Linked DNA regions of Homo sapiens. The protein of the gene in region 2 interacts with the protein of the main gene of each other region in a biochemical or structural test. Each region holds a gene or a part of one and is shown on either strand. Other genes may lie near its edges.

What was found. Proteins that work in one complex are often made in the same cells at the same time.
Region 1: the proteins of SYNJ2BP (region 2) and ACVR2A form a complex in vitro, tested with the Homo sapiens proteins (2 studies listed by BioGRID and IntAct, with this or other methods).

What each region holds. Positions count from the first base shown.
Region 1 is NC_000002.12:147,918,029-147,925,055, forward strand, and holds part of ACVR2A (activin receptor type-2A isoform 1 precursor), read left to right. Parts: intron 1-418; coding exon 419-564; intron 565-2,201; coding exon 2,202-2,316; intron 2,317-4,944; coding exon 4,945-5,083; intron 5,084-7,027. UniProt on the Homo sapiens protein: On ligand binding, forms a receptor complex consisting of two type II and two type I transmembrane serine/threonine kinases.
Region 2 is NC_000014.9:70,386,084-70,393,110, forward strand, and holds part of SYNJ2BP (synaptojanin-2-binding protein), read right to left. Parts: intron 2,524-7,027; coding exon 2,387-2,523; intron 1-2,386. Other genes in the region: SYNJ2BP-COX16 protein, read right to left, coding at 2,387-2,523. UniProt on the Homo sapiens protein: Regulates endocytosis of activin type 2 receptor kinases through the Ral/RALBP1-dependent pathway and may be involved in suppression of activin-induced signal transduction.

The DNA.
Region 1 (7,027 bases), on a different chromosome or scaffold from region 2:
TAGAGGAATATTCTACATATTAGTTGTTATTTTATGTTGTTATTTTGTGTTCTGCTAGTCCCATGATATAACAACTCTATAGTCAGGATATTTTAACTTTTAAAATATTTTCTAGAACCTTAGATTTTCAACTAGTCTTTAAAAAAAAAAAAAAACAAACTTGTCTTATAGATTGGTGGAAGTTGACTATTCTTGTAACAAAAGTTTAAAGCTCTGGTATTTCCTTCTGGTCAAATGTTTATTAATGTGAAATGGAAGGAAATTTGAACCATTTGAACCATTCCAGAAAGATTGTTTCTTGGATATTATTTTTCCCTGAAAGGGAAACTCACAACCTCTTATAGGTAAAAAGAAAAGTCTCCTTATACATATGGCCTTTGTCAAGAACATAAGTTTCTTTTTTTCCCTCTTTTTTTAGGGTTCACTATCAGACTTTCTTAAGGCTAATGTGGTCTCTTGGAATGAACTGTGTCATATTGCAGAAACCATGGCTAGAGGATTGGCATATTTACATGAGGATATACCTGGCCTAAAAGATGGCCACAAACCTGCCATATCTCACAGGTAGACTAAATTTATATTGTTTTCCCAGATAATTGAGTATATATTTACTAAACTTTTAAGCCCCTGGGTAAATTTTAATTTTTCCTTTGTTATGCAATCATGCTTTACAAGACAGTCAGTTTTCATTTGTTTTTTAAAATTAGCTTTGAGATTGGCCAGGAAGTATTTTGGATAATGTATATGTTAACATTATTGGTAAAGTTTAATGATCTACTTCATCTCATTTCTGAAAGCATGATTGAAAATAAACTATATTTTCTCGATCTCAAAGGAAAAAGACATTTGTTTTACCTCAAAACATGATTTATCAATAGGGATTATTATCCAAGGGCATGTAATGAAGGAGAGACTTTGAATGTCTTCCTTGCTTGTTTTTTGAATGACCTTATCTGTACCCTGAGCCAAGTCTTAAAGGGAGGCATCACTTAAAACAGTTGTCCAGTGAAGAAATACTACTTAGACCCAACAGTTGTCATGCCCGCAAAAGGAAAAATGATTGTGTCTTAAACATGGAATTCAGTTTGCCATGTATTTAATTTTCTTGAACGTGGGATTCAATTTGTTGTCTTGTGTTCCATTTAAAGATGGTTGTTTGAAAAGTAGGCATTAACTGATTCACAGAACAGATACTTAGCTGAGTGCCACCAGGCGATGTTTTAGGTTGCTGGGAGGCATTATTGTAAGTCAGCCTCTAATTTAGGTTCTGATTTTGCAAACTTTAAATGACGTCTACCTCAGAAATAACTCTTCTCACTTTCTTACATGCAGTCTATTGGCCTCGTCTTCGATTTTCCCTTGCCCTACCTGGTCACATAGGGAATTAATCCTTAAGGACCCCCAAAGTTATTAAGGGCCTGAAAGTCTTTTGAAACTAAGATCGATTAGCTTTTATAGCATTTGGGAGTGTCTGCTTGTGCTTTCAGTATCCCATTATTGGTCTATATGTCTGCACATAAATTTAACCACTAGTCATTGGCATAGATGTATTTAACTAGGGTATAGTAATCTCTAGGATGAGCCAGTTGAGACAGGTGTGTAGAAGAGGATATCTTACTGCCTTAAAACTGTTACCCTTTTCAGAACACCAGGATCTAGCTAGAGCAGTGTATGTTTATGGTAAAAAGTTTCTGTTATTCATTCCATAAGATGCTTTTCTACAACCAGGTGGAAGAATATAAGAACCTCTATAATAAGGGATTATTCTAAAATGTAGGTCTCTACCAATAAGCAGAAGGCCCCAATTCAGCTATTTTTTAAAAGTTTCTTCATTTTGGTTTAAAATTTCTGTTTCTATGGGAGTTTGCAAATCAGAACTCTGAGATATTAACAGTAGTTTTATGATTGGTAGGTGGGTGACATAGATAACATATCTTTTTGGTATGGCAGATTTTTATATAACTGCTTTATAGGTAGGATTCCTTCTTATTGTCCATGTTATGAATAGGGGTTTGTCACCGTGCTCTTGTGTTTAAGGCTGCATGGGGCTCTGAGCTTTGTTTGTCTCACTTTCTCTGCATTTCATAATTTTAAGTAACTATTTTTTCATAGTGTACATATTCCCCCTTTTCTGCTTTCAATAAAAAATTTAAAAAGGTAACTAGTTTAAACTTAATTTGAATACTCTTTTTATTTGCAAGGGACATCAAAAGTAAAAATGTGCTGTTGAAAAACAACCTGACAGCTTGCATTGCTGACTTTGGGTTGGCCTTAAAATTTGAGGCTGGCAAGTCTGCAGGCGATACCCATGGACAGGTAAGGATGATGATTATAAAATGTAAGAAAAAATAAACTTGTTCCATATTTTCTTAGAATGGCATGTCAGGACTGAATTAGTCTAAAATTGTTGTGGTGTTTAAATCAGCATCTAATAGAGTTATCAAAGTTTCTGAGGAAGACATTTTCATATGATGGTAGAGGACTCAGGTGGTTTAGATCAAGCACTTCGTAAAGCAACCCTTAGACACACGTCATAGGATTCTTTTTGAAAAATTGATCAAAGAATAATCCACCACCTTTTAACAGACCTCATTCTTAGGGAATTCTTCGTATGAACTCCGTAGTTTTAGTCTGTTAGTTCTTTCACCATCTTAAGAAGAGTGGAAGAATAATTAGTCACTGTCCTTACTACAGTGTATTAAGATTTCCTGTCCATTTTCCCATGCAATAATAGTTTATTGCTTCTTGTTGTTTATTGCTTCATTAATTTCTTTAATCAACTTGATGGCTTTTCTCCAAATTCTCTCCAGAGTTCAGAGCACTTGTAAACCCCTGAATTAGGTAACTCTTCACACCTCTGTATATATCCATATGCACAGAAATCTTAGTAATGGGAACCTCTAGGAAGGCCAAAAGGGAAAAGAACATTATCCATACAGTTTATTCTCAGAAACTTTGAGGCTGGAAAAGATGTTTTCATTCCTGCAAGATCACCTTTTATTTTTATTTATTTATTTATTTTTGAGACAGAGTCTCGCTCTGTCACCCAGGCTGGAGTGCAGTGGCATGATCTTGGCTCACTGCAGCCTCTGCCTTCCAAGTTCAAGTGATTCTCCTGGCTCAGCTTCCTGAGTAGCTGGGATTACACACATGCACCACCATGCCCAGCCTAATGTTTGTATTTTTAATGGAGATGGGGTTTCACCAAGTTGGCCAGGCTTGTATCGAGCTCCTGACCTCAAGTGATCCTCCCACCTCGGCCTCCCAAAGTGCTGGGATTATAGGCGTGAGCCACCACGCCCAGCCAAGATCACCTTTTAATCAGGGAAACCAGTTCAACCTAAAAGGTGACATTTTCTACAAAGCTAAATGGTTCAGGCCTTCGACATTATCATTTCTTCATCTTTCATATCATGTAAATTATTTGGCCAACTAATTCTTAGGTTTCTTTTCCCCAGCATATCCTATTGGTTCCTGAGGACACGTTTTTAATGTCATGGCACCACCAATTTTGGCAGTATTGACTAACTATTTAAGAATGTAGTTTGGGGTAATGGTCAGTAGCCATATAGCTCTAGAAAAGTTGACTGCAAATGTGTATGGGAATGGAGGCAATTTTGTGGAGAATACTACCAAGATTGTGTAGGAAGCCTGAGGACAAACTTCTAAGCTAATTGAATGATAGACTATCATAAGACTAAATTCTGGGAACATATTCTTAATTTGGTACCTCATAAGCCCTCCCTCATTTTTTGAGAAAAAAAATTTCTGACTCATTCATGTCATATTTTTAACTCCTTCACAACTGGGTTTTATGATTAGTTAAAAATTATTGGCTTACAGTAATGACTCCTTGACTTTAGATTTCATGGACCAGAAAATTTCAGAAATATTTGGAGGGACTTGCATGTTATTGCACATTTTATATAGTACAAAGAACACATATAAAAGAGGGAACATTTTATGTCAACATGGTAAATAAACCATAATCTTACAATAAAAGAGGTAGGTACCTTGGATGGCATACATTTACCTGTAAGAGAAAAGTAGGCTTTAGGGAAACATTCACTGATAGCACAATTAAAATAATTATTCTGAGTAGTAAATTTTTTAAAAGTAGAGCCACTTTTCCCTTTAATGTGTTCTCCTTGAACTTTAGTCTTAGTGATCTGTCTTTATTCTTAAAAAAAATCTTTACATGTATATTTGCATAAATTGCCCAACTTTTAGTCTAGAGTAGAGATTATAGCCACCTAAGGATGGAGCGTTATGGACGTACCAATATCTAGACTACTCTCTAGTTCGAATACATCGCAAGTATGTTGTGATGTACCCAGCTATCTCACAAATATTTTTAAGCATTCATATATGAATGTTGTCAAGCACCAACCAAAGCTAGCTGTACTAGCTTAGTAACCATAGTTACAGTACTAAGAAATACCAAATTGTTGGGGACAGTTATAAATAAAGGACTCCAAGACAGAAGAATTTATGAATAAACAAATACATAGATTTTGTACAGATAGAACTTTTTAACATCAGTCTGTCCTTTACTTAGCTAATTCTTTTTATAACATTTTATTAGTTTTTTTAATACAGAGAAAAGACCTCAAAAAAAGTTTTTTTTTTAAAGCTACATTTCAAACAGTATGCAAAGGTACAGTTGAAAAGTATGCAGCATCCTTCTCCCAGCTGACAATTGGTTCAGTTTCTTGTGATTACATCCAGAAAGGGGAACATAAAAACTTCTAAGTCTGTACCAGCATAATGTCTGTTGATATATTTTTTAAGTATACGCAGAAAGGATCTTTCTATTTATACGCTATAGTGTGTATACCTTACCCTGGTAATAGACCACATTTGGTTTTGATTCATCTTACAAAATCATATGTTAGTTCATAAAGTTAATGAATGAGTACTCTTTGCTTTTAACATCTTTTTCAGGTTGGTACCCGGAGGTACATGGCTCCAGAGGTATTAGAGGGTGCTATAAACTTCCAAAGGGATGCATTTTTGAGGATAGATATGTATGCCATGGGATTAGTCCTATGGGAACTGGCTTCTCGCTGTACTGCTGCAGATGGTAAGGGAAAAAAATATTTTTAAAAAAGATATATATGCCTACCACACATATATGAAAAGGGATGATACACTCCAAGGTAATATTTTAAAGTACAGTTTTTTTTTAATTGACTCCAAGAGATGGTAGAGAATTCAGGAGGCAGGGGAGCAGTGGGTGGGGTAGGAGAGGAAAGGAATTGCTATGTATTGATCCTTTACCATTACTAGCTATGTTGCTGGACACTTCACATACCTTAAGGTTATTTCCTAAAACGGTTTCAGAGGTAGTTATTATGCTTTACATATGAGGAAATTGAGATGCAGAGAAATTAAGTAGTTTGCCTACTTTAGCCTCAAACTGGTGAATGATGAAACCTAGATTTGAAACTCTGATCCAGACATAGGGAGAGGTCTGCTTTAAGGTCATATGGGTCCTGCCCCCCAGGTTAAAGGGTTTCTATTACTTGTTCTTGTTATTGAAGTCCATGTTCAAGTCTTATAGATATTTGCTTTTATTTATTTATTTTTCTGGGTAAATTTTCAGACGATATTTCCAGTGTGACAGAACTATTTTAGTGTTTCAAGCACTGTCTTTAGTACTCCTTCATAAGGTCTTTACTCTGTCTTCAAGTATGTTGCAGCATTTTTTGTTTTGAATAATATAAGGCAAACTTGCCGACTGCTAAACTCCTAAACAGATGTAAATGAGCTTGATCTGTTTCTTAAGTTCTAATTTATAATTGCCTAAAAACTTCCTGTGATTGTCAAAGACCATAGAAGAAATTGTGAATATTTTAAGTTATAACCAATGTAACCTATGTTACTAACAATATTTTATTTTCTGAGTACTGTAATAGGCTCTCGTTGTAGGACAGACTGCCACTGGAATATGAAATTCAATATAGGGTACTATTAAAGGGAATTTAATAGAGTGTTCAGAAATGGGCATTCTTCCAGGATTGAGGGATTGGCTTGGGAGTCAATGCCAAACCTAAGAAAAGTTGAAGCAATTTTGGAATAATTTCAGAAGTCTTTAGGAAGAAGCGTTAAGAACGCAGAGTGTTTTGACTCTAAGAGGAATGACATTTATGATGTGCATTTATGGAAGCAGAAGTAGGTTAGATGGCAGATGTTATAGGAAAATATATTTTATAAGAACTTTATTAATATGAACTCTCCATAACAAATCATTGGATTAAGTAATTTAGGAGACACAAGACCTTATTCTCAAGTAATATACAGTTTAGTTAGGGCAATAAAATATATCCTGGACAATTAACTCTAGAGTAAGTTAAGTGTGAGTTGTCTGGCCCATTCCCCAGTACATAGGTATTCAATAAATGTTTCTGGGTTAGTGCAATACTTAAGAAATACAAGCATGTGTTTTAGGAGTTTAGGGGAGAAATTGCTTTGTTTATGGGGAAGAGAGGTTTCAGAGAAGTTCTTTTGGAAAAAGAAAAGGCTAGATACTGACTTTTCTTAAATGCCATGAAATAATTTCAGAGTCAGGCATTTCTGACTCTTAAGTCAGAACCCAATTGTTAAGTCAGAAATTGGGGTAGAGAGGATAGTGTGAGCATTGATTGCTAAAGTAGGTGCTTTCACGTGTGTTGATGGTTACTTGTTTGTTAAATGAAGTAATTCTCAAACTTTAATGTGTCATACCAGATTCTTAGGAATCTTGTTAAAATTTAGATTCTGACTCAGTAGGTCTGGGTTGAAGCCTGAGAGTCTACATTTCTTAAAAGCTAAGCTACCAGTTGACGGCAGTGTTGCTGGCCTGTACACCACATAAGTGTTGAATAGACACCTTAGAATGTCGGTACTTTGTCACTGGAAGTACTCAAGCAGAGACCAACTGTCCAGCCATAGATAATTCTTATATTTGAAGAGGGTTAAGTTAGATGACCCCTTTATGATTCATTGTATTCTACCCAGGAGTATTTAGTGCATTTCAAGAGCTTCA
Region 2 (7,027 bases):
ATTCTTCATCCACAGAGCCCAGGTTCCAGTGTTCTGAGGATAATGTAATTTATGTGTCAAAATATTAAGCTGCATAGATTCTAACTAAATGCTACACCTTTATTTTAACAACCCACTCTCAGCATTCCTTACAGTACCACTGCCAAGTTGATTCATATTGGATGAATGTCTTTCCTTGGGAGCTAAAGGAAATAATCTGCTTCTAAACTTTTCACTATCCTTTTGAGAAGACAGGTATATTATCACTGTCTCCATCTCACTGATTAATAAACAGGGTCTAGGAGAAGCTTAATGGACTGAAGAGAGGCAGAATAGTCAATGAGAAGGACTGAAATACTGCAGTGCTTGATACTATATTTATATTATGGATCAGCGAGGACACATGCTTAGACATTCTTGAGCTAATTTAGGTGGCTCTAATAGCTACTTGTTCTGATTTTCTTTCTTTTTGGGGGACTAAGTGGAGTCACAGTCTTCCTGAAGAGGCATTCAGAACCATACTGCTGAGCCTGATCACTCAAATACTCAGATGCCAAATGAAGAAAAGGTGGATGTTCTCTCTCTCTTTTCCTTTGTATCTCTGCCTTCAGGTTCTGCTACCAAATGGGCTTCATGGCAGAGAGGTGTTCAATAAGCTGACAACTAAGAAGAGCAAGAGATTTCACACATATGACCTTTAATCACTAATCACCTGAACTGCATGAGAAGTAATGTGAAAGGGAAAATTCAAATGAAACTATATAGCAAAAAATTTTTAAGGGATGAAGCTAACTCATTATAGAGGTAGGTTCAAAATCATGTATCTGAGACCAATACTTAATTCTGCCAATCAAGACTTCTCCTGTCTGTACTTCATTCATTTATTTCAACGTTTTCCCAACGTGGCCATCTTGCCCTATTCAGTTCTAAAAGAAAACAGGGAATAGTTTTCTCCTCTTCGGACCATGGGCTTATGGCCCATCTGGAGAGGATAGGGCTCCGAAGCCCTATCCTATTTCAATTTCCTTTTATTTAAGTCTAGCCCTTTGAAGCCAGCTCTCCCAAGAATATTCTAGATAATATCTCACCCCCTCAGCATTTTTCCATTCTTTATACCAATCATCTGCACTGTTTCCATACAAGTAATAAGCTGGCCATTTTTCACTAGTCCTGAAGATTAATAAAAAAAGAAATTCTACAGAATAATTATCTCCAACTATACTCCCTTATCCCCCAGCAAACTGATAGTATCATAGGATTACTGTGGCCCATGGTAAGGTAGAGAAATGAACAATAGGGCCAGAGTTATATTTTGCATTTTAATAGTTTTGACTGTATGCTTGTTCTAATTTATTTTAAGACCTGAGGTCTGTGGGCCCATATTTATCAGTCAACCTTTTTAGGTTTGCCTGAATTTCTTAACTTGTTCATTTCTTAAACATTATTAAGCACTGTGCTATGATTCAAAAGGTTAAAAAAAGATCTTAGGCCGGGCCCGGTGGCTCACGCCTGTAATCCCAGCACTTTGGGAGGCTGAGGTGGGCGAATCATGAGGTCAGGAGTTCGAGACCAGCCTAGCCAACATGGTGAAACCCTGTCTATACTAAAAATATAAAAAATTAGCTGGGCGTAGTGGCAGGGGCCTGTAGTCCCAACTACTCAGGAGGCTGAGGCAGGAGAATCGCTTGAACCCGGGAGGCAGAGGTTGCGGTGAGCCAAGATTACGACCCTGCACTCCAGCCTGGGTGACAGAGCAAGAATCTATCTCAAAAAAAAAAAAAAAAGGATCTTTTCACTGCCCTTGAGGAAATATTCTGGAAAATAGTAAGATTAATAATTACCATGTAGTATGTCTTCGTAGAGACATTAGCAGGATGAAATGGGAACACAGCGGACAGGTACCCAAATCAACTGCATTCCAAATTTTCATGTTAATAATGGGTGAAAAAGGGCTCTGAGTCTGAAAAGGACACTTAACTCCAACCTTCCTTCTTTCTGTTTTGTGATGTTAAATCCAATTATAAGGGCTGACATTCCCCCAAAGGAAGATACACATTAGTGTTTTAATCAACAAAAGGAGGTGATAAAGTAATGGATGAAAGACAAAATTTGTGGATTTTAAATCTCTTTTCCCCATATGAGTCCCTCGCTGCTTCCTGCCTTGTGCTTTTTGAACAAGTAACTTCACATTCTGGGCTTCACATTCTCATCTATCAGGTGAGCATAATGTTGCCCTCCATGCTCAATGATAGGGTTGGAAAGAATGACTGATCAAAGTTGTTCCCATTCAACTCTACAACCTGTATATTTCCAGATCCAAATCTTTTCAAGGAAAAGGGATAGGGAGGGGTAGGACCTAGGGCTTAGGGAGCAAAGGACAGTGAAGGAGGCCGAAGCCCATTCTCACCGAAAGGATCTTATCACCCTCCTGGAGCCGCCCATCCAGGGCCGCAGCCCCATTTTCTTTGATGCGGCTGACGTAGATGCCACTGTCGTTGGAGACATACTGCTGATCTGTCCCACCGACGATGTTGAAGCCCAGCCCTGAGAAAATCATGGAGGAGTAAAAAGATGGGGGTGAAGAAGAAAGAAAGAGATTAGAGAAGATGAAGAGAAAGGGAGGGAAAGCCTACTGGGGAGGAAAGGCTGATGGAGAGGAGATGCTGGCGAGTCAGCCTGTGATGGAGCTGGTGAATGGTCATGAACAAGGTCAGCCATATCAAGAGTATTGAGTTGCTCACTCAAATGAGGCACGACTGAAAATATAAACACAGTGATCCACCTGTTTTGTTCAATATATAAAGAAAGATCTATATAGAACTTAAAGAATAATGGTGATTACTCTAAGTTCGTTCTTCTTTTTCTTTTTTTTTTTTTTTCAGAGTCTTGCTAGTGGGCATAGTGGTGGGCGCCTGTAATCCCAGCTACTCAGGAGTTCATAGCTCAGTTGCCCAGGCTGGTTATGAGCTCCTGGCCTCAAGCAATCACTATTGCCTTGGCCTCCCAAAGTTCTAGGATTACAGGTGTGAGCCACCATGCCCAGCCTAGATGTAAGTTCTTCTACTCACATTTAGTTTTGATCCTGTTGATGGTATTCAAAGGACCCAATTCCTGACATTCCTGATATTACTACAGCAGGGTTAGCTGTGTTCATCAAAAGAAGCTATGCATTTTTACCAATTATCAAATGAACTGTTCCTAATTTAGTGTGAGAGATTTCTAACCATACCTTCCCTTCCACACTTTCCTTCTCCCAAGCTTCTGGAGAATTTATGTATGATAGTGCTTTAGAAAAATCTCTTGAGAGTTTCTTTTTTTTTTTTTTTTTTTCCATTTTGGTGGTGGAGGCAGTGGTGTAGGTATTGGCAGAGAAACCTCAGAACCAGAAAGGTAACTGCTATTTCATGGTAGGACTAAATCACCAAATTTACTCTCCCTTCCTTCGCTACTTCAAGTACAACCATATATAGGTTGAGTATCCCTTATCCAAAATGCTTAGGACCAAATGTGTTTTGAATTTTGAATTTGGGGGATTTTGGAATATTTGAATTAAACTTACCAGTTGAATATCCCTAATCCAAAAATCTGAAATCTGCAATGCTTCAATGAGCATTTCCTTTGAACGTCATGTTGGCCCTTAAAAAATTTTGGAGTTGGAAGCATTTCAAATTTCAGATTTTTGGATTTGGGCTACTCAATCTATACTTGGGCATAGTAATTGACAACTTTTATTCACTGTAGAAAAAACTGACTACTCGTTGATTAGCAACTCCCCAGTTCCTCTTCCCTAAGTCCTTGGAAACCACCATTCTAATATTTGTTTTTATGAGTTTAACTATTTTAAATGCATATAATTTTAGTTATGCAAGATGAATTAAGTTCTAGAGATCTGCTGTACAACATTGTGCCTACAGATAATACTATATCATACACTGAAAAATCTGTTCGGAGTAGATCTCACGTTAAGTGTTCCTACCACAGTAAAACAAAATATTAAAAGAAAGAAAAAAGAGAAGGAAAGAAAACTGAGTACCAAAGTGCTATTTCTATGGACCAATGACTAAGTGCTGGAAAGGATTTTACTGTACAGAAACCGTTGTTAGGAAAGGATTTTACCTATGCATAAAAAAATAAAAAGGAAAAAGGAACTTCTCTAGGGCTTTCTTAATGTCAGCTACTGGTAGAATTCAGGGGCACAGTGTAAGACAAAGGAGATAGTTTGGAAACAAACCAAAAATCTAGCGGTGCAATTGGAAGGAATAACCATAATCACCAGCCTACACTGTTCTCAATAGAAAAGATACTTAAAGAGACATATGCGGGGGGCCGGGCGCGGTGGCTCACGACTGTAATCCCAGCACTTTGGGAGGCCAAGGCAGGTGGATCACAAGGTCAGGAGATCGAGACCATCTTGGCTAACACAGTGAAACCCTGTCTCTACTAAAAATACAAAAAATCACCTGGGCATGGTGGCAGGCACCTGTAGTCCCAGCTACTCGGGAGGCTGAGGCAGGAGAATGGCGTGAACCCGGGAGGTGGAGTTTGCAGTGAGCTGAGATTGCATCACTGCACTCCAGCCTGGGCGACAGAGCAAGACTCCATCTCAAAAAAAAAAATAAAAAAGAGACATATGCGGGCTTTCTGAAAGTTCTCCCCATTGGTGGGAGAAAAGCTTACACCTGAAGCTCACAGTATTAACATAAGCACTAGCAAATCAATTTGTAATTTAAAGAAAAACATGACCAAACAAAGACACAACAGGAAACATTTAAGTTAAAAAGCATACCTTAGCCAGGCATGGTGGCTCACGCCTATAATCCCAGCACTTTGGGAGGCCAAGGTGGGTGGATCACTTGAGCTCAGGAGTTCGAGACCAGCCTGGGCAACGTGGTGAAACCCCGTCTCTACCAAAAATACAAAAAATTAGACACGCGTGGTGGCACATGACCAACATTGGGAGGCTGAGGTAGGAGGATCATTTGACCCTGGGAGGCAGAGGTTGCAGTGAGCCAAGATTGTGTCACTGCACTCCAGCCAGGGTGACAGAGTGAGACCCCCATCTCAAAAATAAAATAAAATACATAAAAAGCATACCTTGTGCATAAAATCTCTGCAGCTAGATAATAGAAAGAATTTATTCTCTAAAATAATATACATAATAGAAAGTGCTACTTCTGGAGTTTGTGACCTGGCTGGGCAACATAGCAAGACCCTATTCTCTAAAAAAATAAATAAGAAGGTGCTACTTCTGGAAGATGCTATTTTAACTTCCTTGAAGGGCTGGGTATTAAAAATAGTAGCTTAACTTACTAAATGATTTTCTTAGAGCACCCTCAATTTGTATCATAGAAGGTAGGAAGTATTGGAGAAGGTACAGAAATGTAAGATAAGGTGGAAAAGCAGATGGAACAAGATTATCGAAGGTTTTGAAATGACTTCAAAACTGTGACAGCTTTGAACAAGGGGGCCAAGGCCAACCCACCTCTCCCAAGCTGGAACAAACTATGTAGAAAAATCTTTTGATGAAATCCAACACCCTCATCAAATGCTACAGTTGCCTCTGGTGATCTTGGGAACAGGAAGCAAATGTTAAGCAGCTGAATGCAATGTAGTAGTTAGCAACAGAAAGGACTTTGCTACTGGTTATTCAAAGCTAACTGTAGAAAAAAAAGGAAGAGTAGAAGAAATTTTACCGAGATTTACCATAAACAAAAAAGAGCCGTCTACTACACACCCCATCGAAGTCATATTATATAGGTACATTTATAACCCGTTGCTACTTCTGTTGTAAATGAACCAAACTATTTAACATGAGAACTCCTGGACTGACCTGAAGCCCTTTGTTCAGCCAGAATATTTACAGAACTGGGTGTATCTATAAGCCAAAGCATTGCTGCAATAAAAGAGTCACCACAGCATTAAGTAGTGGCATGACCAACTGAACCTGGGCTGTACGGATACCTACATAATCCCCAGTTCACTTGCTCAGTAAAAATTACTGATTGAATCTTATGTGTAAGATGTTGTGTTATCATCTGAGGAAGACATAAAGTTAAACTGCACACTCCCTGCTTTGATCACAAACTGGAGTTTTTCCTTTTTCCTGTCCCTTTAAGATATTGCAGAAGCAAATCAACATTTACTATGTGTTAGGCATTACGTTATGCTCTGAGGAAGATATAAAGCTAACCTGGACAGTTCCTATTTTAACCACAAACCCAAATTTATCCTTTTCCCTGTCCCTTTTAGATATTGTAGAAGCAAATCAAAGTCAGAAGACTTGGTTCTAAGTTTATAACTTACCAGATATGTGGACTGAAGCAAGTCAGTTTACCTCTGATCCTCAGCTTCCTTTTCTACAAAAATAAGAATTATAAATTCTGCCCTGTCTACATCAATGGGTAAGTGTTAGGGGCCAATAACATAAAATACGAAAAAAAATCTTCATAAACTACATAGTAGTTGCTCTATTGGGATAAGGCGCTAGGAGTAGTTGTCAATAAACTAATGGCTGCTAAAGCTCCAAACTAGATAGTTTGACAGAGAAAGAATGAATAAATATACAGTAGAAATGCAAAATCTCCTAAAAAATGGGAAGACAGATTTTAAAATTCCACCCATCTATAAACAGGAACTCAAACTTATTAAGTACGTCTATGGCATGTGACCTAGAAATCCCCCTTAAGAGTAGTTTCTAGCAAGTGTGATATCTAAACTCTGCGGCAATCATCCAGCATATGGACCAACCAATTGAAACAGATGTCAGTTGGAAACCACCAGAAAGGGAAAGGCTATTCAATACGTATCTTGCTAATCATTGGCTATGGCCCAGAAAAATCTTGCATAAGTAGGGTGACCACATATCCCAAAAGCAATTGCCACAAAAGCCAAAATTGACAAATGGGATCAATTAAAGAGCTTTTGCTCAGCAAAAGAAACTATCATCAGAGTGGACAGGTAACCTACAAAATGGGAGAAAATTTTTGCAATCTATCCATCTGACAAAGGGCTAATATCCAGAATCTACAAGGAACTTAAACAAATTTAC